Regions from separate parts of the Homo sapiens genome. Here all the other regions are linked to region 1. Evidence: fine-mapped expression QTL. A gene starts in region 1. Each other region holds a variant in brackets. All regions are shown on one strand. Distances are between the middles of the regions.

Region 1 (5,074 bases):
AAAGCTGTCCTGAGAAAAGGAGCGACCTTGACCTTCAGGGGTGGGGAGGAAGACAGCCAGGCGAGGCAACCCCACAGAGTAAACTGCAAGAATAAATACAGCTGCCTTTTGCTTCTCTCCCTGCTCTGATTTCTTCTCAGGGCTCCCCACTGGCTGAGCCCAAAGGAAAACCAAAAGGCAAGGAGCCCACCGATGTAGCTCACGGAGGGCAAACCCCTGGGGCATGGTGGGGAAGGGAGAAAGGTTTGGAGAGGCAAAGGGAAGATATTCAGCATATACATCAACAGAATGTATAAGGTATATAATCATCCAATGGAATGTTGCCCAGCAAGAAAAGAGCAAAATCTTCATGTTGGACAAAAAAGACAAGGTCCATTAAAATACAGTCGTCCCAGGCCGGGCGCGGTGGCTCAGGTCTGTAATCCCAGCACTTTAGGAGGCTGAGGACGGCGGATCACCTGATGTTGTGAGTTCGAGACCAGCCTGGCCAACATGGAGAAACCCCATCTCTACTAAAAATACAAAATTAGCCGGGCGTGGTGGTGCGTGCCTATAGTTCCAGCTACTCCAGAGGCTGAGGCAGGAGAATCGCTTGAACCCGGGAGGCGGAGGTTACAGTGAGCCAAGATCGTGCCACTGCACTCCAGCCTGGGCAATAAAGCAAGACTCCGCCTTAAATGAATAAATAAGGTTTTACCATAGAATTACCGGAGAAACCTACTTTAGATAAGGTAGCAGGTAAAGTCTCTGAGGAAGTGAATGAACTTTAAAATGAGGTGTGACGGTTGAGAGAGCCAGGCTCACCAACCCTGCTAAAGAAGCAGAAAACAGCAAGCGCCAAGACCCTCAGGGAAAGAACGGCCTTGGCCCTTTTAAATGCAGTTCAAACAAGGGCAACAACAAAACCTGTTGCAGAACTGGGCAAGAGAGAGAATGACAACCCTGAAGGAAGTGGACACAAGCCTGATCATATAGGGCATTTAGGGTGACTTCCCTGGGGGTATAAAGCTGGTGAGAGCCTGGGAGGCGATCTGGCTGCAGGCAGCAAAAAGCCACAGAGGGGAATCAACAAACCAGAAACAAACCTCCCTCTTTACTTAGCACCTAGCATGCGTCCAACACCGGGTTACAAAAATACTTTTGATCTGTTTACGCTTCCAACAACCCTATGAGGCAGGTATTATCAAACCCATTTTTAAGGCAAAGCAGATAATCTAAATCCAAAATCCAAGCACTTCACTACGACTCTCGAATGCCCTCCCTCTCTACTGCTCTGATGGGGCAGTGTTACCATTTCGGTGAATGACTTAAATAAACGTCATTATGGAGTACAGAATACATAACGGTGAACAACCTTAATAAAACCGACACCCTCTAACATGCACCGAACGCTTATCCAGTAACACCCACAAGTATTCCCGTTTCACAGATGTGGAAGCTGAGGCCAAGATGCTAATGCACAGCTTGGAAACCAGGTCTCGCTGCAGAGTCCAAGCTGTCATTAACTATGCTTTGCTACCCTCCTCTTACTTCCCTTCTCTGGGGGAAGTTAGGTCAAGGCCAAGGAGGCTCCTAGACCAGATCGCTCTCTCGGCCTCGCCTCTCAACTGCGCCCCTGGAATCCCTAAGAGCAGGCTTTGATGCAGCTATGGCGGCTCCCAGGCCCCGGTGCAGCCCCGGATGGTGTCCGACTGGCGGAGCGCACACCTGAACAAAAGGTTCCCCCGGCGGAAGGTTCCGCAGCCCCAGAGTCCCCTCCCCGGGTGAGGGGCGGGCAGTACCTGCGGGAAACGCGGCCAGGGTCCTGCCCCTGGCTCTGTGGAAAACACCCCCCGCCTCTGCAGCCGACATGGCGAGCGAGTTTCTGGCCTTCACTTAGAACACTGCGTGGGTGGAAGCCGCGCGACTTCACACAGAACAACCGCTGGACCTGTCCCGCTTTGGGCGACGCCCTTTGATCTCGGGGCGGGACTGGGGCGGGACGGGGAGGGGCCCGGTGGCTCGGGGCGCCACTAGTGCTGCCTGGGCGGAGCGGAGGCGCCAGCGGCCCCTCTGGGATCGACCTGCGCGCCTGGCGAGTGGAGACTGTCTAGGGCACGCGTGGGCGGGGATAAGGCTTTGGGGTCAGTCCTTCCCTAAAGGCAGAGTTACTAGATTTAACAAGTAAAAATGCAGGACTCCCGGTTAAATTGGAATTTCAGATTTTTTTTTTTAAAGAATGACTGACTTGGTATAAATATGTCCTATGCAGTATTTGGGAGCTACTTACGTTAAATTTTTTTTTCATTATCTGAAATTCCAATTGAACTGGGCGTCCTAATTTTTTTAAATTTTTCTCTTTTTGCAGGTTTGAATGGAAGCGTCCTGATTTTTTTTTATCTGACAACTCTATCATAAAGTCAGAAGGAGCCACTGGGGTGGCTTACGCCTGTAACCCCAGCTCTTTGGGAGGCCAAGGAGGGAGGATCGCTTGAGTCCAGGTGTTGGAGACCAGCCTGGGCAACACGGCGAGAGACCTTGCCAATACAAAAAAAAAAAAAAAAAAGATGAAAAGGTGGACGTCTTGGAAGACTGTCTCAGCCTGAACTTCCCAGTGGCTGCCACCATCTTTCTGTTATTATCTTTGCTTGCTATGCACCAGGCAGGGCGCTAAGCACTTTGCACGCTGCTCACTTAATCCCCACTACAGCCCTAGGAGGTGGTGCTGTTATTAGCTGCATCCGTCATTTGGGGAAACTGACGCTCAGAGAGATGAACGAACTTGCACAAGGTGACACACATCTAGAGAGGTAGTAAAGCTGCGAGTAACCAAATTAGTGTCTCTTCAACTCAAGAGCCATTGTAGTGAACTACTTAGCCAGCATTTGTCAAACGTGTTGAAAATACAAATTCCAGAATGGACCTATTGAATCCAAATCTCTATGAAAATGATCTGTGTTTTGTTGTTGTTGTTGTTGTTTTGAGACAGGGTCTCACTCTGGTTGCCTAGGCTGGAGTGCAGTGGCACAATCTCTGCAGTCTCGATCTCCTGGGCTCAGGTGATTCTCCCACCTCAGCCTCCTAAGTGGCTGGCACTATTGGCGTGCGCCACCATGCCTGGCTAATACTTTGTATTTTTAGTAGAGACGAGTTTGACTATGTTGCCCAGGCTGATCTGGAACTCCTGAGCTCAAGCAATCCACCCACCCGGGCCTCCTAGAGTGCTAGGATTACAGGCATGAGCCACAGTGCCTGGCCTGAAAATGATCTGTTTTTAACAAGCACTGCAGGGGAGCTCTTATGATCTTACAAATTTGGGAAATTCTTTTCTAAACTAGCTGCCTACATCCAAAGCACTGTTTGAGTAGCTAATATGGCCATAACTACTGTTCTCTAATCCTTGACAAGAGTCACCCATGAATCATAGTGGTTAAGAGTATAAATGCCTATGAGTCCTGGAGTCAGTGGGCTTGGATTAATCCCGGTTCTACCCACTTACTGGTTGTATGCTCTTGAAAATTGCATAGTTTCTCTATGCCTCAGTTTCCCTATCTGTGAAATGGAAACAATAGTAGCATCTAGGTCATAGGGTTGCAGAAAGGCTTAAATGAGTTCATGTATCAAAGTGCTTAGAATAATAGTTCTAATAACAAATGGTAGGTACTCAATGAATATTAGCCATTGTTATTATTAATCAATCACTATAACCCTATTCCCTGAACATGGCCTGGCCCAGAGGAGGAGTCCCAAGAAATGTGAAGGAGGCCGGGCGCAATGGTTCAGGCCTGTAATGCCAGCACTTTGGGAGGTGGAGGTGGCGGATCATGAGGTCTACAGATCGGGACCACCCTCGCCAACATGGTGAAACCTCATCTCAACTAAAAATACAAAAATTAGCTGGGTGTGGTGGTGCACGCCTGTAGTCCCAGCTACTCGGGATGCTAAGGCAGGAGAATCACTTGAACCCGAGAGGCAGAGGTTGCAGTGAGCCGAGATCCCGCCGCTGCACTCCAGCCTGAGCGACAGAGTGAGACTGTGTCTTTAAAAAAAAAAAATGTGAAGGGGAAGCTGAGCACAATGGCTCATGCTTGTAATCCCAGCATTTTGGGAGGTTTAGGCAGGAGGATTACTTGAGCCCAGGAGTTCAAGACCAGCCTGAGCAACATAGTGAGAACTCATCTCTATTAAAAAATTTTTTTTAATTAAAAGAAATGTGAAGGAGAGAATGAATTATAGAAACAGACCCTGCCTCTTATTCACTAGCTTTGCAGTCATACTGGCCATTCAGTTCATTAAACATGCAAATTAATTTCCCTCTCTGCATATGCAGTTCTTTCTGCTTAAAATGCCTCTTCCCAGCTGGGCACCGTGGCTCATGCCTATAATCCCAGCATTTTGGGAGGCCAAGGCAGGTGGATCACGAGGTCAAGAGATCAAGACCATCCTGGCCAACATGGTAAAACCCTGTCTCTACTAAAAATACAAAAATTAGCCAGATGTGGTGGCGCGTGCCTTTAATCCCAGCTACTCGGGAGGCTGAGGCAGGAGAATTGCTTGAACCCGGGAGGCGGAGGTTGCAGTGAGCTGAGATCGCGCCACTGCACTCCAGCCTGGTGAAAGAGCAAGACTCTGTCTGAAAAACGAACAAACAAACAAAAAAGTATCTTCCCCTGCTGAGCTAAAGCCCATTTGAACATGAAGGCCTGCAGTTAAATAACACTTCTGTGGAGAGGCCATGCCCTACCCATTTGCACACTTTGCTGATCTAAACTAGGCCTCCCTCATTCTTTGTTAGAGCACTATGTTCTTGTCCCTTGTTGCACTTTGCACAGTTGATAATTATATGTTTTCAGGTGTAATTATTTATTTAATGTTGACTTTCCCGACTCAACTATAAGGTCTATTAAGTTGGTTACCTTTTTAAAAAATTTACTGTTTTGGCCGGGCACAGTGTCTCACGCCTGTAATCCCAGCACTTTGGGAGGCCAAGGCAGGCAGATCATTTGAGGTCAGGAGATCGAGACCAGTCTGGCCAACATGGTGAAACCCCATCTGTACTGAAAATATAAAAATTAGGTAGGCATGGGAGCACGCC
Region 2 (5,074 bases), 21 kb after region 1:
TGAGATTACAGGCAAGAGCCACTGCGCCCGGCCCTCAGCTGTGTTCCTGAGCAGTGCTGGCCACTGTCCCCAGTGCTGTGCTGTGACAACCCACCATCCAGTTGTAAACATCTCTATCACAATGTGCACAACAGCCGCAAGCACAACACAGTATGACATTCAGCCATGCAGTTCTTGACACAGATTATTAGAGCAAAAGACATTCAAAAACAAGAGAGCAAGGAGATTTGCTTTCCTGTTTTGTCCCTGCCTTATGAGAAGAAGCTGTTCTTTGGAAACAGTATGTCCTGGGTCAAGTCCATGTTAAAAATTACATGAAGCTAACACTGGCTCAAGGCTTTTAGAGTCCCAAGAACTGCAATCGTAGTGCCCCTTTCTTCGTAATGGAAATAATACCAAAATCAGGATGAGAAAGCCCAATAAAATTCTGATGTTTTTCTATCATTGGCACTTAGATGCTTATATTTTTGAAATATTGTATATCGAATTCTTTCCAATTTTTTTTTTCTCCTTATCCAACCCTTTTTTGCTGGTGGACTGTTCATGTTTTCTTGGCCATCTGAGTGTTCTGACGTTACAGTTAATGCAAAGGGTAATGTGTGAAATTGAAGGAACTTCTTTAAACCTCCACGGAAGTTTTATTGCCTGATAAAATTATGGTCTTCATGAAATACTAAAGCAATAAAGGACAAATGAGTTTCTTTTATTTTCTTTTTTGTTGTTGTTGACATGGTTTTGTTCTGTCACCCAGGCTGGAGTGCAGTGGCGCAGTCACGGCTCCCTGCAGCTTTGATGTCCCAGGCCCGAGTGATCCTCTCACCTCAGTCTCCTGAGTAGTTGGGACTACAGGCACACACCACCATGCCTCGCTAAATTTTTTTTTTTTTGACACAAGTTCTTGCTCTGTCACGCAGGCTGGAGTGCAATGGTGTGATTATGGCTCACTGCAATCTTCACCTCCCAGGCTCAAGTGTTCCTCCCATTTCAGCCTCCTGAGTAGCTGGGACTACAGGTATGCATCACAATGCCTGGCTAATTTTTTTTTTTTTTTTAAGAGACGGGGTACAGGGTTTCACCATGTTACCCAGGCTGGTCTTGAACTACTGGACTCAAGTGATCCACCTCCTGTGACTCAAGTGATCCACTGGCCTTGACCTCCCAAAGTCATTGTTTTGCATGGCCTAGGAATGTTATTTTGTCAGCTGTTTTCTTTACTTAATACGCTGATGTCATATATACCAATATATATGTGTGTGTATGTAAATGTTGATATGCCATATATGTGTATGTATAAAATAGTCCACAGTTTTACAGTTGCACGTGGATTCTGAAGTTGTTTCAAATGCTGTTCTTTTAGGTAGAACTCTATGAAATTGCTGTGTTCATTGGTCAAAAATGGCCAAATACCAGTCATTTCATATGGTTCAACCTACTATCTATGAGGACTATTGCAATAAACAGCTTAAATATATTGGTGCTCTTTTTTGGAGAATTTCTTTAGGATAAGTTCCTAGAAATGGGATTATTGGGCTAAATAGCACATACACATAAATTGTTGATGGGTTTTGTCACCATGTTCTCTTTCCCATCAATAGTGTAAGGGGCTCCCCAATATCCCTCACACTTGGCAAACTAAACTATAAGTTATGGGTAAACCAGTTTACTCTTTTTTTTTTTTTTTTTTTTTTAAGATGGAGTCTTACTCTGTCACCCAGGCTGGAGTGCAGTGGTGCAATGTTGGCTCACTGCAACCTCTACCTCCCAGGTTCAAGCAATTCTCCTGCCTCAGCCTCCCAAGTAGCAGGGACTACAGGCGTGAGTCACCATACCCAGCTAAATTTGTATTTTTAGTAGAGACAGGGTTTCACCATGTTGGCCAGGCTGGTCTCGAACTCCTGGCCTCAGATGATCCGCCTGCCTTGGCCTCCCAAAGTGCTGGGATTACAGGCTTGAGCCACTGTGCCCAGCCCTAAACTGGTTTACTCTTATGAAGTATGTATGCACTCCTCTTTCTGTGGATCTTTGTTTCCCGTTGCCTCTCTTTGGGGTGATCTTTCCTCTGGCATGCAGATACTCAGGTGCCCCCCTCAACTTGCATTGCACAAGAATCAGGCAGTAGAAACTGTGAGCCCAAACAGATGTGCCAGACAGGTCTCAATCAATTTAGAAAGTTTATTTTGTCAAGGTTAAAGACATGCCTGTGACACAGCCTTAGAATTTCCTGATGACATGTGCCCAAGGTGGTTAGGATACAGCTCGCTTCTATACCTTTTAACTAGACATCAGTCAATCAATACATGTGAGATGTACATTGGTTCGAGCTGGAAAGGCAGGACAACTCGAGACGGGGGCTTCCAGGTTATAGGTTGATTTAAAGATTGTCTGGGCTGGGCGTGGTGGCTCCTATAATCCCAGCACTTTGGGAGGCTGAGGCGGATGGATCACGAAGTCAGGAGTTCAAGACCAGCTTGTCAACATGGTGAAACCCCGTGTCTACTAAAAATACAAAAAATTAGCCTGGCATGGTGGCGGGTACCTGTAATCCCAGCTACTCGGGAGGCTGAGGCAGGCGAATCGCTTGAACCCGGGAGGCGGAGGTTGTAGTGAGCTGAGATCACACCATTGCACTCCAGCCCAGGCAATAGTGTGAGACTCCATCTCAAAAAAAAAAAAAAAGAAAAAGAAAGAAAAAAAGAAAATGAAATTATGAAAAAAAAAAAAAGATTTTCTGATGGGCAATTGACTAAAAGAGTTAAGTTATTATCTAAAGACCTGGAATCAATATAAAGGAATATCTCGGCTATGATAATGGGTTGTAGAGACCAAAGTATTATCATGCAGAAGAAGCCTCCAGGTAGCAGGCTTTGGAGATAATAGATTGTAAATGGT[T/G]TTTTTTTTTTCTTTTCTTTTCTTTTTTTTTTTTTTTTGAGACAGAGTCTTGCTCTGTCTGTCGCCCAGGCTGGAGTGCAGTGATGTGATCTTGGCTCACTGCAACCTCTGCCTCCTGGGATCAAGCGATTTTCTGCCTCAGACTCCTGAGTAGCTGGGATTACAGGCATCCACTACCATGGCCAGCTAATTTTTCTATTTTTAGTAGAGATGGGTTTTCACCATGTTGCCCAGGCTGGTCTTGAACTCCTCCTGGCCTCAAGTGATCTGCCTGCCCTGGCCTCCCAAAATGTTGGGATTACAGGCATGAGCCACCGTGCCTGGCCTGTAAATGTTTCTTATCAACTTTAAGGTCTGTGTTGATGTTAATGCTGGTTGGCTTTTCCTGAATTTCAAAAGCAGGGAGAGTATAAGGAGGCATGTCCGACTCTCCCCCAACCATGGTCTGAACTAGTTAGGTTAACTTTGGAATGTCCTTGGCTAAGAGGAGGGGGTCCATTCACATGGGCCTTAGAATTTTATTTTTTGTTTACAAAACTGAAACTGTGCCTCCTTTTGTGACAACTGTAACATTGAATTTCCTGGTATGTGATTTCTAAAAAAACTGATTTATATATTTAAAATTCCTGTATATCACATTAATTATTTCCTGAGTTTGGTGTGCATCATGAGTACAGAATATTATCAATAAAATAAAAGTAAATTTAAAGTAAGCTGACAAGGTGCCAGCTCCAATGTTAAGCATTTGTTTTATTGAATCTTTACAGCCACGCTGAGAAGTAAGTATTGGCATCCACATTTTACATAGAAAAAACTTGGGCTCAGAGAGGTTAATTCTCTCATCCAAGGTGGCATAGCTACTGTATTGATGATCTATTGCTACTTGACATGGTTTGGCTGTGTCTGTACCCAAATCTCACTTGAATTGTAATAATCCCCACGTGTCAAGAGCAGGGCCAGGTGGAGATAATTGAATCATAGGGGTGGTTCCCCCATACTGTTCTTGTGGTAGTGAGTTTCACAATATCTGATGGTTTTATAAAGGGAGTTCCCCTGCACATGTTCTCTTGCCTGCTGCCAGGTAAGACGTGACTTTGCTCCTCCTTTGCCTTCTGCCATGATTGTGAGGCCTCCCTAGCCATGTTGGAACTGTGAGTCCAACACGTCCCTTCAACCTCTTTCCTTTATAAATTATCCAGTCTCTGCTATGTCTTTATCAGCAGCATGAGCACAGACTAATACACTACTTAACAAATTACCACAAACTTAGCAGCCTTAAATGACAAATATTTATTATTTGACAGTTGCTGGGAGCCAGGAGTTTGGGCAAAGCTTAGCTAAATACTCTGCTTATGGGTTCTCAAGAGGCTATAACTGAGGAGTCAGTCAGGGTGGGGGTCACCTCTGAAGACTCAGCTGGGGAAAGGTCTGCTTTGCAACTTCACTTACATGGCTGTTGGAAGGATTCAGTTCCTTCAGGTTTCTTGGCCCAAGGGCTTCAGTTTCCTGTTGGCTGGAGGCCACCTTCAGTTCCTTGGCACATGGCACTTTCTAACATGGTGGCTCACAACATGGAAACTTGCTTCATCAAAGCAGCAAGGGACAGAAACTTCTAGCAAGACAAAACTCACATCTTGTGTAGTTTCATCACAGAAGTAGCATCCAATTACTTTGACCATATTCTGTTGGTTAGAATCAAGCCACCAGGGCAATACACACTTAGGGGAGAGGATTACACAAGTGCACAAAGACCAGGAGGTGGGAATCACTGGGGCCATATCGAGTCTACCTGCCACAGCAATTGAAGAGCAAAGCTGGGATGTGAAGCCAGTTTCATCCAAGTCTGAAGCTCCCAACAGTTAACCATTAAGCTCCACTGCCTTCCACAGAAATTAATCTGATTACTTTTTAGAAATATTAATCTGGTTATTCCAACATGGACTGCAGTGTTTATCTCAATGGGTTACCCTTTTAAATCTGTTCTCTCAAGTGAGAACTGAAAGATCCATCCAAAGTGAATGAATTCACTAGTTTTATGAATTTTCTTAAGAGGTAACTTTAGAAAGGAAGACTAATGACCTTAAGACTTCCAATGCTAAATCTTGACCCTGAGCTATTAGACCTAGCCTTCCTATATGATTTTTAGAACATCTGACCAATTTGCATAAAGAAATATACAAATCGG
Region 3 (5,074 bases), 270 kb before region 1:
CCATCTCCTGTTGTCTCCTGGGCACTGAGCCAGCATCCCCTCCATGCTGTTTGCCTGGTTATGTCATACATTTGGGTGGATCACCTGCCTGCATGACTACCTGGCTCTGGAGTTTGCAGTCCTGGCTCTTCTCCACTGCTCCCACGGCCCCTCCATTTGAATCTGTGGACATCCACGTTACTCATGATGCATTCGGTTTGCACACTGTGCCACTGTGTGTTCTGTGAACAGGGCCACTGATCAGCTTCAGGAATGGTGGTCCCATTCTGGTTTGGGAACTGAGAAGGTGGGCAGGAAAGATAAAAACCAGTGGGTAGAAATTGCTTGTGTTTTTCCTCACAAATATTACTTAAAACTTTCAGTCCAGTATTAGATGGAACCTGCTTTCACACACACTCTTCCATTTTTAAATTCCATTTGACGTGTCCATATTTCACTGTGTTCTGTAAGAGGCATCATGACTTCTAAGTAATCTGCCATCTGCACAAATCTGAGTTGAAGAATCGGGAGGTTGAGTTTTTCCTCCCAGTCTCTGTGCCTCCCGTTGCCTCCCTTGCTAATGCCAGCTCTGAATTGGAAAGTAGGCCGGTGGGAAGTGGGGCATTTCTTTTCTATTTTGAACTCTGTATATCAGTGTGGCCCAGGGGGGACCAGAGTCTACTCCCCAAGACAAGGAACAGATGAGTGCCAGCCTCCCAACACCCACATCTTTGGGAAGCCCCGTGCTGTGTTCGTCGTCTGACATTTGGGGAAGGGGTGGTTACTAAGAGACGTGACACTTTGCAGATGGCAGAGATCCCCGGGGAGATGTGAGGTACCGTTCGTGGAGGGAGGCTCGGACTCCAAGAATTCGCTCAGTGAGACTGGACCGCAAATCGGTGACAGCTTCAGTGATTTGCCGTGCTGTCATTTAGCGCATTATTAAAATGGTTTTCTGCAGAGTAATTTAACTTTGGGAAATACATTATGTTCTCCTGCTCCTTGAGGAGAGAGAAAGTTAGGGGGCTGGAAGGTGGCAGAGTAATGTAGGTCACAGCACAAATTCCCAACTGGATTTTCAGCAGAAAACCCAGTCTGGGTTTCCCCCGCCGCCGCCCCCATTTGCTGCTGCATTCTCTCTTAGGGTTGTGAAATATATCCATTTTTTGCTGAAATATGAGCTGCCTTGTTCTCCCAGTGAGCAGGTTACGTTTAGCTCAGCGATGCCACACCCTGACCTGTGCACTGCCAGGGGTCACTTGAACCTAAGCTGCTTTGCAAGTCACTGCTAACAGGAAGTAGCAACTTTTGACTTCCCTTGTTTTGTGGACTGGCCAGAACCTTCCAGACTCCAAAGTCCTCAGCGTTACCCAGTTGCCAGTAAGGAGTGGTGATGCCATGCAAGAGATCTCAAAGCTGCAGGCATATTGGTTAGGTGTGTGTTCAGTAAAGTGTCCATGCATGTGACTTTCCATGGGCAAGTGTGTCCCAGTTCGGCACCGTTCCAACTACTCCCTCTTGCTTTTCCCCTTGGCCTGCTCTGCTGACTTACATCAACCACTTGGCCCTCTAAGGCAGGTGAGTTTGAGACCCCTGGTAGCCACATAGAAAGTGCGGTGTTGATTTTGGAGTTGCTGATAGTCTTTGGCTCTTCCACTGAGGAGGAAAGTGGTCTTTTAGGAGCTTTTAGAACAGCGCATCACACATAGTAAGCACTGTATGTGTGTCACTGTTTGTACCAACAGACAGGGAGCCTCGGGGAAGGAGATTGTGGGGAGCAGATATTTTAGGGAAAGTGATGAAGTTCTAGTGTGGAAAAACCCTAAAACACTACAGAAAGAAGATGAGGAAGTAAACAGCACCCACCCCATGCACACCTACCCTTGCACTCACTGTCAAGTCTTTTGTGTAACTGCAGAAATCATCAATATTTATGTAAGTCAAATAGAAACTCCACTGTT[C/A]TGAAATTTGCCTTCGTTTTTTTTTTTTGTTTTTTGTTTTTTTTGGTGGGGAACAGTTGCGCTCTTGTCGCCCAGGCTAGAGTGCAGTGGCGCAATCTCAGCTCACTGCAATTTCCCTCTTCTGGGTTCAAGCGATTCTCCTGCCTCAGCTTTCTGAGTAGCTGGAATTACAAGTGGCCGCTACCATGCCCAGCTAATTTTTGTATTTTTAGTAGAGACGGGGTTTCTTCATGTTGGCCAGGAGTGTCTCAAACTCCTGACCTCCAGTGATCCACCCGCCTTGGCCTCCCAAAGTGCTGGGATTACAGGCGTGAGCCACCGTGCCTGGCCACCTTTCTTAATTTAATAAAACTGGCTCAGTCCTTCTGAAAGGTAATAGTATCCACCGTAATGGCTGTTTCATAATTTATTTCACCCTTGCTCTACTTGAACAGTTAAGAGGTTTCCAGATTTTTCTCCCCCAGACTGTAGTCTGGAACATCTCGATGGATACACATTTTGGCAGGTAGAGCTACAGGCTTGATGTGTAGAAGCCATTCTGGCTTAGAGGGTATGTGCATTTTAAATTTTTCCTGACATCACTAAAGCCCACCCTCTCATACCAATTTGATATGCAGGGTTTGATCTGGATCGAAGGGGAAGCCACTCTTCCCAGGTGTGCAGAACAGCTGCAAGAAGCAGGGAGCCCCAAGTCATCCCCTGTGCCTGGAGAACAGGGCACTTGGCCCTATGGTCAGGGCGCACTGGGACCTGGGGTGGAAGTCTTGGTCTCTGGGGGCTGGAGCCCTGGCAGGTGTGTGAACTCAGGGCTGTGCTTTCCGAAGAGCACGCCAGGACTGGGTATAGTGGATGGATTGGGCGATGGGCTAGGGTGCCCTCAAAATGTTGCAGACAGAAGGCAGGGAGGGCCTGACCCAGATGGCCAAGAGGAAAGGGGGACATGGGTTTGGAAGGCCCTACCAAGAGGGGACGTGGGGCCCCACTGTCTCAGGTGTGCAGCACCATCTGCCCCGTGGTCCTCATGGCAAGGGGGCAGCAGCGGCATTGCCATTCTCTGGGATGAGGACGGTGAGAGTTGAGTAGGTGACTAGGCTGCCTGCTGGGGCAATGGAAGGGGAGCAGCAGAAGATGCCGAGTTTTGAGGCTGAATATCTGGGTGCAGAGAGGTCAAGGGGACAAGGAGGGGAAGCCCGCTTGGGAGCAGATGAGATGAAAAGGAAGCATTGGGGTCAGAAACTGGTCTACGTGCATCCTGAAGGCAGGCCCAGAGCCAGGCGAGGGCAGAGTGAACGTCTTCTAGGATGGCCGCCTGTGAGCTGCCTTCAGGTAGCAGTTTCTCCCAGGCATGCCTCAGGAAATGTATGTCTTCTCCCCTCTCACGTCACAAGAAAAACCAGTCAAGAGGTCGGAGAGTGTGTTATAACCGTCCTGCTGAAAATTAAGATGTAGCAATCACAGTTTGGAGGAATCCACAGCGACAGAGGAGAGGCAGGAGCAGGAGGTGTCACCACATGGAGCTGCAGGTCTGGGTCGCCGTTTACAGGAACCAGGACAGGAACATGTGGGAGAGACGTGGTCACGATCTCATTAGTCAGGATTGCCTTGCACTGATGCCATGCTGTAACTGTGTGTTCCTGGCTCTGTCTACTGCAAACAATGAATCATTCTTGCAAATAAATACTAATATGTTTATGTAAATTGTGTACTTTCTGTGAGTGGCATTCCAAGAAGTAAAAAGTTTTGGAAGCACAATAAGTCCTTAAATTGGCATTCTGGACACCAGACTCTGTAGCGTCATGAGCCTTGCTAGCAGGTGCCTGTGTTGTGTGGTTCTTTCAGCAGCTCCCAGCAGCGTTCACTTGTGTTTCCCAGCGTTTGTATATTCATTCTAGGCTGTCGTGTTTTGTAAATCCTACTAAGCTCAATATTATTAAGCAAACAGTTTTAGATGTCTATGATAATGGATAAGTAGTGGGAAGGATGTTAGTAATAGTTTAAGAATAACTTATGATTTGGAGAATTCCTAAGAACTTGCAGGAATTCTGACTTCACCATCTGAAATCCCAGTCTGTCTGAGGTATTTGGAAACACTCTTTGGGATGCGATTTCCTGATATAAAACGTGGAATTGGCTGACATATGGGGGATCACAGAGGTTACGAAGTCAGGGTCAGGTGCCCAGGGAAAGAGAGGGCAGGAAGAGGTGTTGGCCTTGGATGGAAGCTGGGGACAGGGCAGGAGCCTGGAGTCCATGGGGCAGAGGCAGGAGGAGGTGCGAAAGCTGAAGACAGCCTGGTCAGCCTAGCGAGGGGAGCCAGTGTCTCCCAGAGAAGCCTTCCCCTGCGTGAGAGAGCTGCAGAATCAACACCTAGCCCCAGAGCGTTAAGAACAGCAGGCCGTCCTCCTCTGCTGCCAAGTTGGCTGCGGACCCAGGGAGCGGGTGGCGCAGCACGGCTGTGGTGGCATCCCTGAGCCCCTCGTCTGTGGGGAGAGTGCCACCAACAAGTCATCAAGGGCAGGAAGGGGAAACGATGGTGCCTTTGCAAGCCACAGCCCACATCACACCTCCGGGGAGGGACAGGTTCAACTCGACAGCTCTGCTTAGAAACACGGCCGCCTTTGCCAGGCAGGGCCTCTCTCTGAACAAACTGGATTCTGGAACCAGCAGCCATCTGAGGCCACAGAGGACACTTTGCTGCTGTTTTGCCCAAAGGGCAGCTGATTCTCCTGTGGAGTGCTTTGCAGAATCCGTAGCAGCTTCCTGGAAAGTCAGCCCTAGTCACTGTTCGTGGGCTGGTACCTGTGGCCCTGTGGGTCCTGGGATAGCTTAGATGCTAAGAGGCTGTTTGAGGTCATGGAGTCTTTCGCCCCTTTTGTGATGTGTTGATGCATATTTCCACCCCACAGGAGGTGAGACACTAATGTTGCACCTCCCCACCCCCATCCCCAGCAGTGGGGTTCCTGGACAGACTTGTCACATCAGAGAGCAGCCCGTCAGCCACTGCAGCCTTTTGTCCTCATTTCTTACTTTCTTAGCCTCGTCATTATCAACCAGGTATATTATTTGGAGGGAGGAGACACCCCGCTACCTGGACTGACACCCCAAATTGGGGCCTTGGTTCTGTGATCTTCCAG
Region 4 (5,074 bases), 110 kb before region 1:
ACAACTGACGTGCTCAGTTTCCACACCTGTGCCGAAGACCTGGAGAAGGCACCTTTAAGGTCCTGATAGAGGGGCTCCCAGGACAATGTCTGGCACCCAGGAGGCTTCACCTAAATGAGTGGTATTTGCTTTTGAGAGTCTCACTCTGTCACCCAGGCTGGAGTGCAGTGGTGCAATCATGGATCACTGCAACTTCAACATTCAGGCTCAGGCGATCCTCCCACCTCAGCCTCCCATGTAGCTGGGCGTGCACCACAATGCCTGGACTCATTTTTTGTGTTTTTTTGTAGAGACAGGTTTCACCATGTTGCCTAGGCTGGTCTCGAAGTCCTGGGCTCAAGCGACCCGCCCACCTCGGCTTCCTAAAGTGCTGGAATTACAGGGGTGAGTCTCTGTGCCTGGCCATGCTATTTTTTTTTTACTTTCAACTCAATCAATTCATATGCAAACATTTTTAAGTAAAATTTAAAAGGCAATGAAATCAAAGCATTTTTGAACTTATTTTACAAAGCAATGTTGTAGATTTGTACTTACACTGTGGGAAATAGGGAAAATGTCTTTTAAGTGAAGGCAAGTGCAGTAAATAAAAAATAACTTGAACTAGTAGACGGAATGAGCGTTTCACTAAGCTGGAGATACTGGAATTTTACAAAGGAATCTCACTGCTAATTTCAAAATGACACTAATTGCTATTTTTGAAACATGATCTCAAAGGAGAAGATATAATATTTTGACTTCATAAACTTCAACAGACACTGCTGTTCCCCATGTTCTGGGGGCTCCTTTTTGAAATGTTGTGATGAAATTAAAAAATTAAATCATTTTTACTTGGCCGGCTGTGTTGGCTCATGCCTGTAATCCCAGCACTTTAGGAGGGGCTGAGGTGGGCGGGTCACCTGAGGTCAGGAGTTAGAGACCAGCCTGGCCAACATGGTGAAACCCTATAGCTTCTAAAAATACAAAAATTAGCCAAGTGTGGTGGCGGGTACCTGTAGTCCCAGCTACTTGGGAGGCTGAGGCAGGAGAATCACTTGAACCTGGGAGGTGGAGGTTGCAATGAGCCGAGATTGCGCCACTGCACTCCAGCCTCGGTGACAGAGTGAGACCCTCTCACAAAAAACAAAAGAACAGAAAAACCCAGACATTTTTAGTTGAAGAGCAATCTACAACCTCAGAGAAGAAACTTCTCTGTTTTGTTCATCCCTCCATCCTCAGTGCCTAGCGTGGGATCCATGCTATTTGCTGAATGGATAAACGTTGATTTAACTTTAGGAATCAGCAGCATACATTTACACACGCCAGATTCTCAATTTATAAATATTTACCATCAGGACTTGATTTCAACTTTAATTAGCCCAACTGTTAAGGATACCTCCAAAGTGAGAAATCTAATCCATCACTTTACACCAGATGTAGCTTTGGCAGTTAGTCTTTTATCTAGGTTTATAGTGAATGAGAATCAGACATTAAATGACTAGTGTGTGATGTTTTGCGGTGAACTGATTGGAACCTAAAAAATAGGCCAAACGTGGGAAAATGAATTCAAGACTAAATCTGAGGAAATAAAACAAAGAGGGTAAACTTCCTCTAGCTGATAAGGTCCCACAAACTCTGGATTCTATGGATGCTTAAAAAAAGGTGGGGGGGGGGGCGGGGGCATGAGTGTGAGATAGTTTTTTAAAAACCCCCCCCTTTTTTTTTTTGAGATGGAGTTTTGCTCTCGTTACCCAGGCTAGAGTGCAGTGGCACGATCCCTGTTCACTGCAACCTCCGCCTCCCAGCTTCAAGCGATTCTCCTGCTTCAGCCTCTGGAGTAGCTGTGATTACAGGTGTGCGCCACCACACCCTGCTAATTTTTATATTTTTAGTAGAGACAGGGTTTCACCATGTTGGCCAGGCTGGTCTTGAACTCCTGACCTCAGGTGATCCACCGACCTCGCCCTCCCAAAGGACTGGTATTACAGGCATGAGCCACCACACTCAGCCTAAAAATTTCATTTTAAATGGGAGGGCACTGTAACATGATTGTCACTGCCCTGTGGACAGGTTTGCTGCATTTGTAAAAAAATCTGACTATGAAATTATACATTCAAAGGTGTGTTTACTAACACTTAATTGGTGAGGTATGTTAAATTAAGTTGAGGCTCAAGCTGCCTCCTTACATATTTTATTTTTATTTACTTA[T/C]TTTTTTGAGACAGGATCTTGCTCTGTTGCCCAGGATAGAGTACAGTGGTGCAATCACAGCTCACTGCAGACTTGGCTTCCGGGGCTCAAGCGATCCTCCCACCTCAGCCTTCTGAGTAGCTGAGACCACAGGTGCATACTATTATGCCTGGTTAGTTAAAAAAAAAATCCTTTTCGCAAAGACAGAGTCTCACTATGTTGCCTGGGCTAGTCTCGAACTCTTAGGATCAAGCGATCCTCCTACTTCGGCCTCCCATAGTGCTGGGATTACAGGTGTGAGCCACCATGCCCAGCCTTCTTTATACATTTTAATTTCAGCCAAAGGTTTCTCTGTATACACAGTGAACTGGATGTGTAAACAGAATAGAACATACTCTTGCCAATCTCCGGTTTTGGCCAATCACAGGCAGTCAACTGTTCAAACTGTGTTCAAATAAGGCAAATGCTGAGTTGTAACCCATCTGGCTGTTTTTGTACCTCACTTTCCACTTTCCTTTTTCTGCCCACAAATCTCTCACCATTTGGCTGTGCTCGAGTCTTTCTGAGCCTCTATTCTGGTTCAGGGTCTGCCTGATTTACGAATTATTCTTTGCTCAACTAAACTGTGAACTTTAATTTGTCTAAGGTTTTTTCTTTTGAAACAGGTGTGTGCTTTAAAAAATAAACAAAGGATCAAATTTTATCACTACATTCTGTAAGAATTTTTCATCTACTTCAGCGACTACCATCCTTTTAAACCAGTACCCCCTTTTGTTAAAATTAAAAGTAGCATGCCTTCCTCATCTACCCTGAAAACTCTCAGACTGGCTGTAATCGTCTATCTTCCCGCATATCCCAGGAGCCAAGAGAATTTTGTCTAGCTTTACTTCCTATAGTTTGCATTTTGAACAGAGTTGATCATTATTTTCCCTTTCAAATCTACACAGCTATATCAGCAGGCAGCAGGCATGTCCCCAAACCAGGTCCGCCTGTCCTGGAGATTCTCAAGAACGCCCGCAAGAAGGACGCCAGCACCCCAGGGGTGAGAAGCATGCCGGTCTAGCTAATGGATAAAGCACATTTGCCTGCTGTGGGGTCCCCAAACGGTTCGGGATCATACAGAACAACAAACACGCCCTTAGTGAGTGCTCACTATGAGCCAGACATGGTGCTAAGTGACTTTCTTTTTTTTTTTTTTTTTTTTGAGATGGAGTGTCACTCAGTCGCCCAGGGTGGAATGCAGTGGCGTGATCTCGGCTCACTGCAACCTCCGCCTTCCCAGGTTCAAGTGATTCTCGTGCCTCAGCCTCCTGAGTAGCTGGGATTACAGGCACTCACCACCACGCTCCACTAATTTTTTGTATTTTTAGTAGAGATGGGGTTTCACCATGTTGGCCAGGCTGGTCTCGAACTCCTGACCTCAGGTGATCCACCTGCCTCAGCCTGCCAAAGTGCTGGGATTACAGGTGTGAGCCGCTGCGCCTGGCCTGACTTGTCTTTTTGATTTTATATATGACTCTCCTTAAGGGATACACCAACTTGACAAGGTTGGGGTGAGTACCCTCTTTTTACAAGTGGGAAAACTAAGGCAGAGAAATGTTTAGTGGCTTATCCCAAGCAACTTAAGAAGCCAAATCCTGTCTGTTCACCTGCCATGTTATAGGACCCCCTGCCCACCGGCCCAGACGCTAATTCCCCCTGTACAAACCTCCAAGTTTTGCCTTATCTGCACAGTACTCATACTACTATTTACTGAATCATTTTCTTTATTTTTATTTTTTATTTTTTGAGTCAGAATCTTGCTCTGTTGCCCAGATTGGAGTGCAGTGGCGCAATCTCAGCTCACTGTAACCTCTGCCTCCCAGGTTCAAGCCAATGTCCTGCCTTAGCCTCCCAAGTAGCTAGGACTACAAGTGTGTGCCATCACGCTTGGCTAATTTTTGTATTTTTAGTAGAGATGGGGTTTCTCCATGTTGGCCAGGCTGGTCTCGAACTCCTGAGCTCAGGTGATAATTAAATCATTTTCTTTAAATTGATAAGCTAGTTCTATTTTTTTCTAATACATGTGAAGCTGATCACCCAATTATTAGACATCTTACATGCACCATGGACCCTCTTGTCTGCAATCCATCACATCCTGGTCTTCAGGGGAACATGTGCCTCACCCAGGCACGCCCTCCACTGAAGACCTTCAGGAGGCTTGTTCTGGGCAGACCTTTCTGTCAGTCAGGCAGTTGTTACAATGGGGTCGTCAGATGCATCCTAAACTTAGACACATACAGAATGTGGACAAGGTTCTGGGGAGAGCAAGAGCGTCACCCTGTAATGGGAACATTTCTCTAAGCCAAGAGTTGGAAAATTATCACCGGCAGGCCTACCACCTGTTTCTGGAAATAAAGTTTTATTGGAACACTGCACTGTCTGTGGCTGCTCTCTTGTTATGAAGGCAGAGTTGAGTAGTTGCTACAGAGACCATAGAGCCACAAAGCCCAAAATATTTACTATCTGACCCTTTACCGAAAAGTTCTATTGACCCCTCTAGGCGAAGCATTTCCCATACAAAAGTCAGCTTGTGGCCTGGGTGCAGTGGCTCATGCCTGTAATCTTAGCACTTTGGGAGGCCAAGGTGAGCGGATCACTTGAGGTCAGGAGTTTGCGACCAGCCTGGCCAATACAGTGAAACTATCTCTTCTAAAAATACAAAAATTAGCCAGATGTGGTGGCGTGTGCCTGTAATCCCAGCTACTTGGGAGGCTGAGTCAGGAGAATTGCTTGAACCTGGGAGGCGGAAGTTGCAGTGAGTCAAGATGGCACCACTGCACTCCAGCCTGGGTGACAGAGTGAGACTCTGACCCCAACCCCCACCAAAAAAAAGTCAGTTCATGAAAACCAACTCACAAGTGATACGGAT
Region 5 (5,074 bases), 440 kb before region 1:
AATGCCGTGAGCATCTAACACTTGTCCTTTTGTGCAGACATATAATAGCTTCCTCATTTTACAACTTCTTTATTATGTAAAATGCCCACATTCAGGCAGGCTGTGTAATGCACGCTCATATATCCTTTGTCAGGGTGAACAATTATCCGTCACGGCCAATTGTGTTTCAGGTTATCTACATCTGCTTCCTCCTCCTATATCATTTCAATCAAATTCTGGGTATTATTTCATGTATAGACATCTTTGTATTTATCTCTAAAAATACAAAAAAAAATACAATATCCTTATCACCCCCATTACCAGTAATTGCTTTGTGTCATCACAGTCAGTGTTCAAATTTCCAATTGCCTCATACCTTTGAATAGTTTTTTTGATTCAGGATCCATGTGAGACCCATGCATTGTAATTGGTTAATATGTCTCTATGTTGCTTTTCCTTTAAATTTTAAAAATTAGGGTAAAATATACCTAACATAACTTGTACCATTTTAACCATCGTTAAGTGTACAGTTGAGTGGCATTAAGTACGTTCACACATTTTGAGGCCATCGCCACCACCCCTCTCCAGAACTTTTCCATCTTCCCCGACTGAAGCTGTCCCCTTTAAACAGTCAGTGCCTGCTCCCCACTCCCCCTAGCCCTTGGCGACCATTCTACTTTGTTCCTCTATGAATCCACTACTGTCTTAGGTTTCTTTTCTTCAACAGAGTCTTCTCTCATCTCTCTCTCTCCCCTTCTCTCTCATAATTTGTTTACTGAAGACACTGGATTTGCCTTACAGAGGTTTTCAACCCCTCAGCTTTGCTGATGGTATCTCTGTAGTGTGATTCGATATGCTTCTTCATTTCCTGTATTTCCTTAAATTAGAGGCTTGGATTCAGGTTTAATTTTGCTGATTATATGACTGTGTCGTTGGGTGGTGTTTTCTGTCAGGAGATGCCTAATGTTTGCTATCTTTTTGTGATATTAACAGCCATCTCTTATCACTTCCTGGGTCCATTACACAAACGTTTCTTTAAGGTCAGTACCTAAGTGTGAAATTGCGGCGTTTTAGTGTATGGCGTCTTAAACTTTACTGAGTTTTGCCATTTTATAAAGTAAAAGCACCTATTTATTAACCCCCTGTTTGTGTGCAAAAGTTCCTGCTGACGCTTTTACATCCCTGCTGTGATATTTTATATATTTGTGTTTTCATCCGCTGTTCCTGGCCCATAATTCCCGTAGCCCTTGTTGTAATGTTGGAGGCACTTTAGGCCTCAGAAGAAGGGCAGATCACTTGAGATCAGGAGTTCGAGACCAGCCTGGTCAAAATGGTGAAACCCCGTCTCTACTAAAAATACAAAAATTAGCCAGGCATGTGGTGGGCGCCTGTAATCCCAGCTACTCAGGAGGCTGAGGCATGAGAATTGCTTGAACCCAGGTCAGAATCTCTCTGACCTTCTCCTGCTCTCTTTTCACCTCTTCCTTTTTCTACCCAAGGCAGGACTCTAATCTTCCCCTGCTATCCATAAAGAAATTGACCCCTATTGTCTGATTGTAGGTCACAAGACCCCCATTTCAGAAGGGGTCCAGCCCCGCACCCTGGAGGAAAGAATACTGCACAGAGAAGCCAGGAAGCATCTGGACAGACAGGCCTTGCAGGGTCTCCCCACTCAGTCTGTTCGTCTTAGACCATACCCTTTTTATCCAATCACGTTGTTAATCTTGATTATCCAGTGATGTCTCCATAAAAGGCCCAGGAAGACAGGATTCAGGGAGCTTCCAGGTAGCTGAATAAGTGGAGATTCCTGGAGGTTGATACATGGGGAGAGCATGGAAGCTCCGCACCGCTTCCCATACCTTGGCCTGTGCATGTCTTCACTGTATCCTTTGTAATATCCTTTATAATCACCAGAAAATGTGTTTCTCTGAGTTCTGTGAGCTGCTCTAGCAAATTAATGGAACCCAAGAAGGGGGTTGTGAGATCCGCATTTTATTGCTAGTGAGTCAGAAGTACAGGTAAAATAACCTGGGGCTTGTGGTTGGCATCAGAAGTGAGGGGCGGTCTTGTGGGACTGAGCCTCACCCTGTGGGATCTGATGCTGTCTCCAGGTAGATGTGTCAGAATTGAATCAGAGGACACCCAGCTGGTGTCCGCTGCAGAACTGATTGTTTGGTGGTAGGGAGAAACCCCCACACATTTTGTCCCAAGAAGTCGTCTTTGTTGATGGTTGTGGTATGACAGCAGAAGGAAAATGGTTCATGTTTTCCCACTTGTACCTACCAATACCTTTTTGCATGAGATGGGTTTAACTTGCATTTCCCTGACCACAGATGAGGTTGCCTATCTTTTCATTTGCCTGTTCCCCATTCTGGGTTTCACATATGACTTCTCACAGCCTTTGTCCATTTTTCTACTGCACAGTATTTGGTTTTCTTGCTTTCTCACTGTTTTTATATCTCCTTTTCAGTTACATGTATTTTACATATCTGCTCCTAGTCTTTGGCTTAATCATTCACTTTAAAAGTAGAAAATTTAAAACATACGTAAAAGCAGAGGGAATGATGTAACAAAAACCCATGTCCCTATCACTCGGCCTCAGTAATAATCAACTCAAGGTCATTCTTGCTTTGCTCATACTCTACTCATTACTTCTCAACTCACATTATTTGGATGTATATCCAATCCATCTTATGCTTTCATTCATAAATACCCAATATTTACTGCTAAAATATATTCACAATACCATTATCACACCTATTTTTATTTTATTTATTTATTTTTTTGAGACTGAATCATGCTGTATCGCCCAGGCTGGAGTGCAGTGGTGCGATCTCAGCTCAATGCAACCTCCGCCTCCTGGGTTCAAGCAATTCTCATGCCTCAGCCTCCTGAGTAGCTGGGATTACAGGCGCCCACCATTATGCCTGGCTAATTTTTGTATTTTTAGTAGAGACGGGGTTTCTCCATTTTGGCCAGGCTGGTCTCGAACTCCTGATCTCGAGTGATCTGCC[C/T]GCCTCGGCCTCCCAGAGTGCTGGGATTACTGGCGTGAGCCACCGCACCTGGCCTAACACCTATTGTTAACAGTAATTTCATGATATCATGAAATACCCAGTCAGTGTTCAATATTCTCCAGTTAGCTCAAAAGAGTTTTCCATGTCTTTGTGTTGATCAGGACCCTGATAAAGTTCATATAGTGCAGTTGGTTGGTGTGCCTCTTCAGGCTCTGTTAATTTGTAGATTCCCTTGCTGTCACTCTCTTTTTTCCCTTGTCTTTTTTGTCATTATTGTGGAAGACACTTGGCTCCTTGAACTGTAGGTTTTCCCAGTTAGGATTTTGCTAATTGCAATCCTATGGTGATGTTTGTCATGTTCCTCTGTCCCTTACCTTGCCTTTAAATTGGTCATTCACTCTGGAGGCTTGATGAGTTTCAGGTTTGGTTTTTTGCCCCAACGATGTCACAGGTGGTGGTGTGTGTTTCCATCAGGAGGCTCATAAATGTTGGTCTAGGAAAGCACTATTGGAGGTGCGAGTTCACACCAGACCCCATTTGTTTCAGTGGGGCCAGTATACAAATGTAATCCCCATCCCCCCACCCCCTACCGTATTGAAAGCCTAATAGTGCAGTCCCTGACTGAGTTTGCTTCCCTAATTCCTGACAGCTCCAAGACTTTGTACATGTTTTTGTGGATTTCTTTAAGTAGGTAGTTAGGAGTTTCCTTAAGAGGAAGCATATTTAGGAAGGACCTGTTGTATACTAAGAACCCTTTCAGGGAGGTGATATCATCTCCATTTTACAGGTTTACTGAGGTTCAGAGAAGCCTCCAGTCATTCTGTGAGTGTGTATGTAATAGAGCCTGGATTCAGACTCCGGTTTAATTACAAAGCCCATTTTCTTTCTCCAAGCTACACCAGCTCTAGAGAATTGCAGGAACGGGTATGGGAGAGGGGGTCCCCTTACGGTACCCATTTCCACCAGCCAAGGTTCCAGCATCCCTGCAGTGGCCCTGCCACCCGTGTTGCACATTAGAGACTTGGGCAGCATCTAATCTACCTCCTCTGAGAAAGGACAATGGGATGTGGGGATGGAGGCCTGGCTGTGACCTGTCTCCCAGTGTGAGTGGGGTAGGTCTTGAAGGTGGGCCAGCCTCTCTGTTGTCCCTGCCCAACACCAGGGGTCCCAGCCTACTCCAAGGCTAGCCTTGCAAGAGAGGGGCTCAGTGGGCAGTCAGGAACCAGGCAGTGGTCCCATTTCTTAGGACAGGTTCAGTGTCAGGTGGTAAATGGTAGGTGACTGTTGTCACTGTAGATAAATTTTTGGAGAGCAACGTCAGTGCATCATTCTCATTGTGGATAATAAAACCCGATTAACCTGTACAAATGAATAACTGCTGATATTAATAGCTAATATTTATTAATTGATATCAGTCAAAAATTTGGCTTCCCTCTTGTATATTAGTAATTCATTTAATCCTCACGTGGCCTAATAGTAATTAATATTATGATGGCCATTTTGCAGAAGACAAAGCTGAGACTCAGAAATGATGCAACTCTCCCAGCATCCCACACTGAGAAGTGGCACTTCTGGATCTGACTTAAAAAATTAAATTTTTGGTTTTTTAAATTTATTTTTTTCTTAAACTTTTTTTCATATTATACAATATGATATACTAATGGTAATATTTTTGCTTTTAACAGTTGGGAAGTATCAAAATTTTTAGACTCATGACAAACCTTAGCATCCCCATGCTAAGAAGTTAAGTAGTAAAAAAGGGTGAAATAAATTTCTTCCTTTCTCTTACCCCCTGATTTTCCTACCTGGAATCTGTAACTGTTACCAGTCTTGGGTTTCTCTTTCTAGGTATGAGTGATGCCTCAGTACACCGCTTTATTGCGCCTATACATGTTAATAACGAGCACATGCCTATACATGTTAATAACGAGCACATGCCTATACATGTTAATAACGAGTAGCCTGCTGAATTCCTTGTTCTGTGTCCTACCTTTCCTCATTTAACAGTGTGCTTTAGAGATCTTCTAATTTTACTTCACGAGTAGAATTGTTGTTCATTTTAAGAACCGTGTCTTGTTCCC
Region 6 (5,074 bases), 35 kb after region 1:
TTCCTTATGGGAATTCTAGGAATCTAATACAGATTTTGGTACTGGGAAGTGGAATGCTGCTATAAAAAATATCTACAAATTGGCTGGGCACAGTGTTTCATGCCTGTAATCCCAGCACTTTCGGCGGCCAAGGCGGGCAGATCACTTGAGATCAGGAGTTCAAGACCAGCCTGGCCAACATGGTGAAACCCTGTTCCTACTAAAAATACAAAAATTAGCCAGGCATGGTGGCATGTGCCTGTAGTTGTGGCTACTTGGAAGGCTGAGGCATGAGAATTGCTTGAACCTGGTAGGCAGAGGCTGTAGTGAGTTGAGATTGCACCACTGCACTCCAGTCTGGTTGAGAGAGGTTGACTCTGTCTCAAAAAAAAAAAAAAAAAAAAAAAGAAAAAAGAAAAACCTAAAAATGTGGAAGTGGTTTTGAAATTGGCTAGTGGGTAGAGGCTGAAAGAATTCTGACGCATTGACAGAAGAAGGCTAGATTGCCTTGAAGGGACTATTGGTAGAAATATGGACATTAAGGGAGATATACTGATGAGAACTCAAAAGGAAGGGAAGAGGCTGGTAATTAAAACTGCTATTGTTTTAGAGAATACATATATTGTCACAGTCTGTTGTACAGATATGATAATGAAAGGTGTTTCTGTTGAGGCCTCAGAAGGAAATGAGGAGACAAAAAAGCCAAAAAAAAAAAAGTAAAAATAAAAAAAGGAAATGAGGAAACCAAAAAAATTATTGCACACTGGAGGAAATGTGGTTCTTGTTATAAAGTGCCAGGAAACTTGGCTGAATTGTTTTCTGTTATTTTGTGGAAAGTAGAACTTGTAAGCAGTGAACTTGCATATTTAGCAGAGGAGATTTCCAAGCAAAGTGTTGAAGGTGTGGCCTGATTTCTCCTTGCATTTATAGTAAAATGAAAGAGGAAAGAGTTAAATCAAGGAAAGAACTATTAAGCAAGAAGGAGCCATAACTTGGTGATTTGAAATAATCCCAGTCTACCTGTATTTCAAAATATGCTAAAACATACTCTGGAGAGAATTCCCATATTCCCATAGAGTGGCTGGAAAACCATTTGCTAAAGAGGTTGAGTGTTTTTTTTTTTTGAGACAGGGTCTCTCTCTGTCACCCAGGCTGGAGTGCAGTGGTGGGATCTTGGCTGACCGCAACCTCTGCCTCCCAGGTTCAAGCAATTCTCGTGCCTCAGCCTCCAGAGTAGTTGGGACTATAGGCACATGCCAACACACCCAGTCAATTTTGGTATTTCTTAGTAGAGATGGGGTTTCACCACGTTGCCCAGGCTGGTCTTGTGCTCATGACCTCAATTGATCCACCCACCTCACCCTCCCAAAATGCTGGAATTACAGGTGTGAGCCACCATGCCTGGCCTAATCTTTTTGTTTCTGACTACTGTCTCTTGTTTCTAAAGAGATTGAATATTTGGCTAATGGAAACAATCAGCCATCCTAGCAGAAGCCAGGAATAGAGATGAGGTTATCCAGGAAAGAGCTGTGGAGAACCCTCTTACCTGATTGTGTGGACTCTGTGAGTTGCACAGGAGACACACAAAGTTTTGAGAATGTTATATCAGCAGAAGCACTGTCACCCTGAATTGAAAGGGACAGAAGCAGAATTAAATGAAGAGAAGCTGTTGGACTTCCAAAATGTCACAGGCAGGATATGAACTCATAGAGGTACTGAGCTTCAAACATGTGTTTCCTTTAAGAAAAAGGAAGAATGACTCTGAGGACATCCTTAAGACTGACAGGGCTTCTGTAGGCTCAGAAGACAGAGCATCAGCCTGTTGAGGATTATTTTCAGGCCTTGAGACCTAATGAAATTTGTCTTGCTGAGGTTTTTTATTTTTTTAGACAGAGTCTTGCTCTGTCTCCCAGGCTGGAGTGCAGGGGTGTGATCTTGGCTCACTGCAACCGCACTGCCTTCCAGGTTCAAGTGATTCTCCTGCTTCAGCCTCCCAAGTAGCTGGGATTACAGTCATCTACCAC[C/T]GTGTCTGGCTAATTTTTGTATTTTTAGTGGAGACGGGGTTTTGCCATGTTGATCAGTCTTGTCTTGAACTCCTGACCTCAGGTGATCCACCCACCTCGGCCTCCCAAAGTGCTGGGATTACAGGAGTGAGCCACTGTGCCTGGCTTTGTCTTGCTGAGTTTTGAACTCACTTGGGACAAGTGACCCCCTTATTCTTTCCATTTTCTCTCTATGGGAATGGGAATGCCTGTCCTATATCTGTCCCATCATTGCATTTTGGAAGCAGATAACTTGTTTTATACTTTCACATTTCCACAGATGAGGAGAATTTTTGCCTCAGCATTCATGATACCCAGAGTTGCACCCAAGCCTGATTTACATGATTTACATGGTAAGATTTGGGACTTCTTGAGTTGATTTTTTTCTTCTTGTTGTTTGTTTGTTTTGAGACAGGGTCTTCCTCTGTTGCGCAGGCTGGAGTGCAGTGGCACAATCAGCTCACTCCATTCTCTGCCTCCCGGGTTGAAAAAATCCTCCTGCCTTAGCATCCTGAGTACCTGGGACTACAGGTGTGCACCACCACGCCTGAGCACACCATGCCTGACTAATTTTTGTATTTTTAGTAGAGATGGGGTTTCATCATATTGCCTGGGCTGGTCTTGAACTCCTGCGCTCAAGCAACCCACCTGCCTTGGCCTCCCAAAGTGCTGGGATTTATAGGCATGAGCCACCACATCCGGCCATTAAGTCTCTATTTCTGTTCTGATCTTTATTATTTCTTTCCTCGTATTAATTTTGGGTTTAATGTTTCTTCCCATCAATAGTGAACGATCTGAAAAAGAAATCAAGAAACCAATCCCATTTAAAATAGCAACAAAATAAAATGCCTAGGAATAAATCTAATCAAAGAGGTGAAACATAAAACATTGATGAAATAAATTGAAGAAGACACCAATAAATGGAAAGATATCCCATGTGCATGGCTTGGAAGAATTAATATTGTTAAAATGTTCGTACTACCCAAAGCAATTTACATATTCAATGCAATGCCTATCAAAATACCAATGACATTATTCACAGAAATAGAAAAAACAGTTCTAAAATCTGTATGGAACCACAGAAGGTCCTGTATAGCTAAAGGAGTCTTGAGCAAAAAGAACAGAGCTGGAGTCATCACACTACCTTCAAAATATATTACAAAGCTATAGTAACCTAAAACACATGGTACTGGCATATGAATAGACACACAGACCAATGGAACAGAATAGAGAACACAGAATAAATCTGCACACTTATAGCCAGCTGATTTTTGACAAATTTGCCAAGAACCTATACTGGGGAAAGGACAGTCTCTTTGGTAAATAATGCTGGGAAAACTGGATCTCCCTATACAGAAGAATGAAACTGGATCCCTATCTATCACCGTATACAAAAATAAACTCAAAATGAATTAAAGACTTACATTTAAGACTGAAATAATAAAATGACAAAACTACTAGAAGAAAACACAGGGAAATGCTTCTTGACATTGGTCCATGCAAGGATTTTTTTTTTTTTTTTTTTGCAAAAGACCTGAAAATCACAGGGAACAAAAGCAAAAATAGAAAAACATGTGAGTATTTAAAGCTAGAAAACTTCTTCATAGCAAAGGAAACAATCAACAGAGTGAAAAGACAACCTTCAGAATGGGAGAAAATATTTGCAAACTATATATCTGACCAGGGGTTAATATCCAGAATGTATAAGGAACTCAAAGAACTTAATAGCACAAAACCCCAAAAAATCCAATTACAAATAAGCAAAAGCCTTGAATAGACATTTCTCAAAGAAGACACAGAAATGACCAACAGATAAATGAAAAAATGCTCAACATCATTGCTAATCATGCTAATCATAGCTAAACATGCTAATCATCAGGGAAATGCAAATCAGAACTACAATGAGATATCATCTTACCCCAGGTAGAATGGTTACTATCAAAAAGACAAAAAATAACATATGCTGGCACAGAAGTGGAGAAAGGGGAACCCTTGCACACAGTTGGTGGGAATGTAAATAACTACAGCCTTTATGGACAACAGTATGCTGGTTCCTCAAAGAACTAAAAATGGAGCTACCGTATGATCTGGCGATCCCACTACTGGGATTGAAATAAATATGGGAAATGAAATCAATATGTCAAAGAGACATGTGCACTCCCATGTTTATTGCAGCATTATTCACAATAGGCAAGATATGAAATTAATCTAAGTATCCATTAACAGATGAATGGATAAATAATATGTAGGTATATATATATATACAATGGAGTACTATTTAGCCATTAAAAAGGAGGAAATTCTGTCATTGGCAGCAACCTGGATGAACCTGGAGGACATTAAGTTAAATGAAATAAGCCAGGCACAGAAAGACAAATACCGCACAATCCCCCTCCTATGTGGAATCTAAAGAAGTTGATCTCATAGAAATAGAGAGTAGAATAGTGGTTACCAGAGGCTGCGGAGGTTAGTGGAGAGGAGATAGGGAGAGATTGGTCAACAGGTACGAAGTTGCAGTTAGATAGGAGGAATAAGTTCTTGCATCCTACTGCACAATAGGGTGACTATGTTTAACTATATTTTTGTTGTTGTTGTTGTTGTTTTTTGAGATGGAGTCTCACTCTGTTGCCCAGGCTGGAGTGCAGTGGCATGATCTTGGCTCACTGCAACCTCTGTCTCCTGGGTTCCAGTGATTCTCCTGCCTCAGCCTCCCTGAGCTGGGATTACAGGTACGTACCACCACATCCAGCTAAGTTTTGTTAAAAATAGAAACTAAAAATGTAGAGCTGGGATTTTGCCAGTTGGCCAGGCTGGTTTCGAACTCCTGACCTTGGGTGGTCTGCCCAGCTTGGCCTCCCAAAGTGCTGGGATTACAGGTGTGAGCCACTGTGCCTGGCCAACAATATTGTATTATTTATTTTGAAATAGCTAGAAGAGAGAATTTTGAATGTACTCACCACAAAGAAATGATAAATGTATGAGGTGATCGACATGGTAAATACCCTGATTTAATTTTTACACAATGCATATATATATTGAAACATCAAACTATA

Evidence for each region.
Region 2: its variant is fine-mapped to the expression of CPPED1 in whole blood (TOPMed, PIP 0.98).
Region 3: its variant is fine-mapped to the expression of CPPED1 in whole blood (TOPMed, PIP above 0.99).
Region 4: its variant is fine-mapped to the expression of CPPED1 in whole blood (TOPMed, PIP above 0.99).
Region 5: its variant is fine-mapped to the expression of CPPED1 in transverse colon (GTEx, PIP 0.98).
Region 6: its variant is fine-mapped to the expression of CPPED1 in sigmoid colon (GTEx, PIP above 0.99).

What each region holds. Positions count from the first base shown.
Region 1 is chr16:12,801,926-12,806,999 of GRCh38, forward strand. CPPED1 (calcineurin like phosphoesterase domain containing 1) reads right to left here and starts at 1,962. Exons shown (of 4, transcript NM_018340.3): 1 at 1,782-1,962. The coding sequence starts at 1,851. RefSeq lists enhancers at 142-221, 1,544-1,913 and a silencer at 1,994-2,043.
Region 2 is chr16:12,822,845-12,827,918 of GRCh38, forward strand. No RefSeq gene overlaps it. Among named protein-coding and RNA genes, the nearest start is that of CPPED1, 21 kb to the left of the region's middle. The variant T/G (reference allele first, on the strand shown) is at 2,890.
Region 3 is chr16:12,528,586-12,533,659 of GRCh38, forward strand. All of the region lies in intron 20 of SNX29 (sorting nexin 29), which reads left to right. It also overlaps a transcript of SNX29-AS3 not described here. Among named protein-coding and RNA genes, the nearest start is that of SNX29-AS3, 80 kb to the right of the region's middle. The variant C/A (reference allele first, on the strand shown) is at 1,941.
Region 4 is chr16:12,693,092-12,698,165 of GRCh38, forward strand. All of the region lies in intron 3 of CPPED1 (calcineurin like phosphoesterase domain containing 1), which reads right to left. Among named protein-coding and RNA genes, the nearest start is that of MIR4718, 25 kb to the right of the region's middle. The variant T/C (reference allele first, on the strand shown) is at 2,185.
Region 5 is chr16:12,357,077-12,362,150 of GRCh38, forward strand. The region is part of intron 16 of SNX29 (sorting nexin 29); the gene reads left to right. Among named protein-coding and RNA genes, the nearest start is that of SNX29-AS2, 13 kb to the right of the region's middle. The variant C/T (reference allele first, on the strand shown) is at 2,994.
Region 6 is chr16:12,837,108-12,842,181 of GRCh38, forward strand. No RefSeq gene overlaps it. Among named protein-coding and RNA genes, the nearest start is that of CPPED1, 36 kb to the left of the region's middle. The variant C/T (reference allele first, on the strand shown) is at 2,004.